Homo sapiens: one gene and its partner. The protein of the gene in region 2 interacts with the protein of the main gene of each other region in a pairwise test. Each region holds a gene or a part of one and is shown on either strand. Other genes may lie near its edges.

The links.
Region 1: the proteins of NT5C2 (region 2) and ATP5PO interact in binary tests that used the Homo sapiens proteins (3 or more experiments, as listed by UniProt).

What each region holds. Positions count from the first base shown.
Region 1 is NC_000021.9:33,909,024-33,912,849, forward strand, and holds part of ATP5PO (ATP synthase peripheral stalk subunit OSCP, mitochondrial precursor), read right to left. Parts: intron 3,377-3,826; coding exon 3,266-3,376; intron 189-3,265; coding exon 59-188; intron 1-58. UniProt on the Homo sapiens protein: Subunit OSCP, of the mitochondrial membrane ATP synthase complex (F(1)F(0) ATP synthase or Complex V) that produces ATP from ADP in the presence of a proton gradient across the membrane which is generated by electron transport complexes of the respiratory chain.
Region 2 is NC_000010.11:103,089,708-103,092,400, forward strand, and holds part of NT5C2 (cytosolic purine 5'-nucleotidase), read right to left. Parts: intron 1,909-2,693; coding exon 1,857-1,908; intron 1,290-1,856; coding exon 1,229-1,289; intron 1,081-1,228; coding exon 904-1,080; intron 516-903; exon of another isoform or gene 202-515; coding exon 1-201. UniProt on the Homo sapiens protein: Broad specificity cytosolic 5'-nucleotidase that catalyzes the dephosphorylation of 6-hydroxypurine nucleoside 5'-monophosphates.

The DNA of each region.
Region 1 (3,826 bases), on a different chromosome or scaffold from region 2:
GACCACATTTCCAGTCATAGTTTCAAGACACCTCAAATGAAAAAGTTCTAATACTCACTGATCAGATTGGTAGTGAGGGGAGAGAACCTCTCTTTTGCTGTGATGTCATTTAGGCTTTTCACTTTAATGGAACGCTTCACATAGGGATTCAAAACAGAAGCAGCCACTTTGGGTTCCTTCAGGATTTGCTGAAAGCATCAAAAAATAATTTCTTAAATTTTTTAGAGCACAAATGAAGGATGTGCCATGCACACACTTTCTTTCTTTCTTTTTTGGAGACAACGTCTTGCTCCGTCGCTCAGGCTGGAGTGCAGTGGCGCAATCTTGGCTCACACAACCTCCACATCCCGGGTTCAAGCGATTATCCTGCCTCAGCCTCCCGAATAGCTGCACCACCATGTCCCGCTAATTTTTGTATTTTTAGTAGAAACGGGGTTTCGCCATGTTGACCAGGCTGGTCTTAAACTCCTGACCTCGAGTGATCCACCCACCTCGGCCTCCCAAAGTGCTGCGATTACAGGCATGAGCCACTGTGCCCGGCCATACAAACACTTTCTTATGAATTAAATATTTTATGAATTAAATTAGCACTGCCGAAGAACATATGAAAAAAAGATTATAATCAAACAATTTTCTGACTGCCTTTCAGAATACACTGTGCACTGCACCAGGATTTTATATAGAATGATGTTCCTCAAAAAAATTTAAAAATACTGTACGAACTTTCTTAAATTTGTTTTTGCTTTTCAAGAAAGATTATAAAACACTAAACAGCCAAACCTTCATTAGACTGCATACTTTAATATATTTAAGAGAGGAGTCGTCTGGTTTTCTAGCAGTGCTATTTCTAGAGTGCAGACCTCACAACTGTGCTCTGACCACAGAGGCCTCCGCACCGCTCCCTTGGAGGGGCCCTGCCTCTTACAGAGTCCAGGGAACCCAGCAGATTCTGTGAGGCCTCTGGTGCTGCCAGAGCGGCCCCAAAGAGTCTGGGAGACAGAGTGGACAATAAAACAGGAGCACAACCATCATGGGAAACAACGTTCTTCTCATTTTGTTGTATCACAGTGTCTGAATTCAGTGACCAAGTGCAGCTTCCAGCATGTTGCTCCAGAGTTCCAACAAACGAACAGCAGTTTCCAGTTGAGCACCTTCAGTTAACACACCTCTCTATGCTTTTCAATTACGCTCCTAGCACCTCCTCCCAGGCTCCTGGCCAGAATCCTGCCTCTGATCCAGGATACTGGTCAGATACTATCATCCAATGCTAACATTTCCACTTGAGTGACCCCACAGAAATGACATTTTTCCATAAAAAATGCAGGAATATACAGATTTAAAGCATTCTGGAATTTGGGTTACCTAGTTTTTCATGTTTATCTGTGTCTCCTGCATCATCCAGAGGACAGTGCGTATCCTTGTATCATCCTTCCCTCTTAGTGCCAAAACCCTGCTAATATTCAGTGTCTTAAGGTAATTGCCTCCCTTTTTCTCCATGTCTCGACTGACTTCCAGGCTTTAGACAAACTCTATTCTAATATCCACAATCCAAGTAATTCTCTCCATTGTAAACATGATTGTTTCCGTTTAAAATGGGCATAACTGACAAGTAGCAGACAATAACCATCACCTCCAAAAATGCCTGTGTGAGACCCCGTCTGTTCCTGCATGCCCTTCCCCCAAATGTCTCCAACAACAGGGCTGGGCTCCTGGGCTCTGAGAGAATCATAAGAGTTTATCACACCAGCTAAGACCTTAAGCATTATCTGCAGAGATAAATGGATCAAGGAAGGAATATGGAGCTAAAATTATTCTGCCTGTTAAGACGGAAGTTCCAATAGAAGCTCAAGTGAAAAATGAATAAAACATAAACAGTACAGAACAGTAATACTTATAGACTATACATACGATGATTAATATAGAACGTAAGTATTATTACTCTATACAACTGGCCTATGAATTGTTTTTTCTAAACAATAAAAACTTGCAGATATGTGAATTAAAGAATGAAGAATCTTAAAATGAAGAAAAAACCAAACTTCCTCTGAAGAGGCTATATACCAGACTGCGTCTCCCTCACCTTTTTTAATGCAGACCTTACTGCCAGTGGTGGCGCTAGAAAATCGAAGGAAGCAACAGAATGTGTAGAAACTTGTTAACTAGAAAATTCGGTGAAAACGAAAGCAGACATTCTCCTATTCAGTTACAATGTAGGCTTCTGGTAATACGGTTTATTTATTCTGCTTTTCATGTTTAAAAAAAAAAGTAAAAAACATCTTGCAGCAGCCTCACAGTCTTTGCCTGTCAGTCCTCTACTACTACTGGGAAGCCCATGCCCCTTTACTAACTCTGCTGCCCAGCGCGCCCCACCCTGTTATTCTTCCCTCACATTTTGGGAACAAAATAATTAAGAGGTTTACCAAAACAATGAAAAGGTCTACATGGTTACTTCTGGGGTTCTGGCAATTGCAAAGGCATCTCTACCAAATGAAAACAACCTGTAAGACATATCTGAGCCTCCTCTGATTCTACAAGCATAGAATATGGCAATTAAAACCTGAGGAAAAGGTTTCATGAAAACAAATTCTCAGTAAAACCAAATCACAATATATTCTAAACACCTAGCCCATAAGCATAGGTTTTTTTTTTTTTTTTTTTTTTTTGAGACGGAGTCTCGTACCGTCCGGGGCTGGAGTGCAATGGCGCGATCTCGGCTCACTGCAACCTCGGCTTCCCAGGTTCAAGCAATTCTGCCTCAGCCTCCGGAGTAGCTGGGATTACAGGTGTTCACTACCACGTCCCGCTAATTTTTTGTATTTTTTAGTAGAGATGGGGTTTCACTATGTCAGCTAGGCTGGTCTTGAACTCATGACCTCCTGATCTGCCTGCCTCAGCCTCCCAAAGTACTGGGATTACAGGCGTGAGCACTGTGCCCAGTTATAAGCATAGATTTTTAAAGGTAGCTTTTAAATTCTCTTCTGAAATAGCAATTTTCCTAAATTACCATCCATTTTAATCTTATATTTCTACCTTTTCTTAGCCCCTAATCTTGGTTCCTAATATTAATATCCTTATATGTATCTGTTTGTTCTTTTTATATGTCTTATAATAAAAACCCAATATTATTACTAAAAATGTGTTTACAGACAATGGCTTTTTCCCAGTTTTTTCTTGTAGGATACACCTCATTAGGAATGCACAAACAACCAAAGGAAAAAATATACAAACAGGAACTTCATATGTAATGAATAGGAAAGCTACTTACTGCTACTCTCAACAACTCCTTTTCTACTTGCTCCAGCTTATTCTGTTTTGATGCAGCAGAATAAAGAGCTGTGGCATAGCGACCTTCAATACCGTATACCTGAACAGGAGGCTTTAAAAAAAAGGTGAAATAGGAGAGGAAAGAAAAAGGAAAATCAGTTAATAGTATACTCTCAAGAGCAGAATTTAAAATTTATATTTTAAAAAATGTATCTCTTTAACACAAAACAGTTTAAATATGTCATTCAAGAGCTGTCCTAAATGGCAATTTGCAAATAAATTAGCGATGTTTCCTTGGTCAGGTCACTCAATCTTTGAGCCTCCAATTCCTCATCTGTAAAATGAGGGGCTTAGTAGGCATTGTCTAAAGTCCCTTCCAGGTTTACATACCTTTATCAATTACTTGTACTTTAATTTTGAGATAAGCTTATGTTTCCTTTGAACTCAGTAACTATTTAGTTTCAAGTATGGGAGGTTGTGAACACTGATAGACAGTTTCGAGTATGTTAGAGCTAGGAAAACAGGTGTTTATGAAACACACAAGTATACTTTTATACATTTC
Region 2 (2,693 bases):
TTCGTCATGGCAGTGTGTAATTTCCTGGGGGGCCAGTGGGAAGAGGTTGGGAGGTTTAATCTCACTAATTGACCGTGTCAGCTGGTGCCGCTTGTAGTCAGTGTCTTTGAAATCCACTGATGTGCGGTTCCGGGTGGCAAGAGGAGACTCCATCTCATTGATATCTACGTGTGTGTGCTCCACCGTTGATTCATGAGGCATCTAGACAGAAAAAAGCTAGAGGCTCAGAAAGCAGGCAGAGCAAAGTAGCTACTCCCCAAATCCTAACCCCTCTCCTCTGTTAGGTGGCCATGCAATTACATCTATAATGGACCACAGGACAAGTCAATATAGACTTATCTTCATAGAACTACTTATAGTTGCCTGTCTTCCTCTCTCCCTGCCCCTCAAAATGGTGCCCATATTGTCTACTGCAGCTGGAAATTGGAAAAGATGGAGAGGGGAGTTTACTTTCTATTTTACAGCAAAAACAAGATAGTCCTGAAACAGATCAGAATAAAGGAATGTAAAAACCACATTTTCTTTTTCTTGAGATGGTCTCTCGCTGTCACCCAGGCTGGAGTACAGTGGAGCAATCACAGCCCACTGCAGCCTCGACTTCCTGGGCTCAATCAATCCTCCCACCTCAGCCTCTAAAGTTCTGGGGTTACAGGCATGAGCCACCATGCCTGGCCCACATACAGCTTTTAATAGAGTAGACTTCAGAGAGTAAAGTTACACTCTTAACTTCCAATGTTGGTTCTACTTTCTCAAAGACCCCTTCTTATGCAACCATATAACCTGCCCCTGGGCTCTGTACATCAGAAAGAAATGTTCAAACTATCTCCTGTGCCATCTCACAAAGGTGGTTGCTGACCCTGGGCTTAGAGTACATCTTGGCTGTCCATTACAGCTTTAACTCACCAAGACATGGGCAGCCCTGAAGAGGTAGCTGAAAGGGTAATACAGCAGGTTGATGAAAGATGCTGCATAGAGGTCAGCATAACGCATCACTTGACTGGCAAAAAGGGTCTGCCGGGAGCCACTGCGAAACAGGCTTCCCATCATCCCATAGCACATGTCCATGTCATGAGTTACTTTCTAAAACAAAGAACAAGATTGATTCTTGGCTCATTCAACAAATATTTATTGAGCAGTAGTTGAATGCTAGTCTCTATAATAAATCAGGAATGTGAAAAAAGCATTTAAACTTATTTCCCAAGTTTTCTCCCAAATCCCATTTGGATACCTTAATACGTCTCTGGATGGAACTGATGTCTGGACGCTCATTGCTACTGCTGTCAAGATGCCTAAAGATAAAAGAAAAACTCAGTGAAAATCTCTGGGAAGAGCTTTTTTTTATTCTTTAAGACAGTCTCATTCTGTCACTCAGGCTGGAGTGCAGGGGTGTGATCGCGGCTCACTGCAACCTCTGCCTCCCAGCTTCAAGCGATTCTCCTGCCTCAGCCACCCTAATTAGCTGGGATTACAGGCATGTGCCACCACACTCAGCTACTTTTTGTATTTCTGGTAGAGATGGGGTTTCGTTTGCCATGTTGGTCAGGCTGGTCTCAAACTTCTGGCCTCAAGCAACCCGCCTGCCTTGGCCTCCCAAAGTGCTGGGATTACAGGCATGAGCCACTGCGCCTGGCCTGGAAAGAACTTTTTTTTTTTTTGAGACGGAGTTTCACTCTTGTCGCCCAGGCTGGAGTGCAATGGTGCAATCTCAGCTCACTGCAACCTCCATTTCCCCGGTTCAAACGATTCTCCTGCCTCAGCCTCCCAAATAGCTGGGATTACTGGCCTGGAAAGAACATTTCTTATATCTAAGTGATTCCTGAGTAAGTTTTTGGGAAAGAAATTTTTAGAAAACTTACTTGTAGAGTTCAGCCAAGAAAATATCCAAGCTCTGAAGTTCTTCGAAAAGTGCTAGTTAAGGTTTGGAAGGAAAAGGAAGACATTTTAAATAAATAAGCACCTAGTTCTTAACTGCTGCTAAACTAAAAGGTTGCAGATGTGACTGGAAAGTAGAACCTGGGACTAACATGCTGAGTGTACAGTTACCTCCTCTTCCCCTCTTCAGGATAACTCACTGATACCTGCTTGGAGTCTGACAACAGATGAACACCATCACCTTCTCTTTAACTGCCTTTCCTCCTGCTTAAACACCATGATGACAACTTTCCCTTCCAGCTGCACGCTCATTCTGAGCTTGTAAAGTACCAGAATTTACATGCTGTCTCAGGTGCAGTCAGCTAAGCAAATGTTAACAGTCCCATTTTCAGATGAAAGATTGAGAATCAGGTGACTTTTCCTGAGTCACAGGTCCAGGGCCAAATCAACTAGATTTCTAAAACTTCATAGGTAGAAAGTTGAAAATGTGAATGAAAGGCTAGCCAGAAAATCCCACTGATAGTACAGACAGTAACAGCAACAGCCAGCATCTACAGCATGCTGCCGGTGTGTTGCAGCCTTTGTCAGTCTGGGTTCCTCAAGACAAGCCCTCCTTCATCTACTGTATGTAACACATTTTCTTCTATCTACCATCTTTAGGAGAATTGAGAAAAGTGTTACTCAAATAATTTTCTGTATTCAGCTCCATTGGAAAGGTAAAATAATAGTAATAATTTTCTGTGTTTCGGATATGGAGCCTTGGTTGAGAAAGGCTGTCATGTCTATCTTTATACACATATTACCTCCGTTTTTCATCAGCT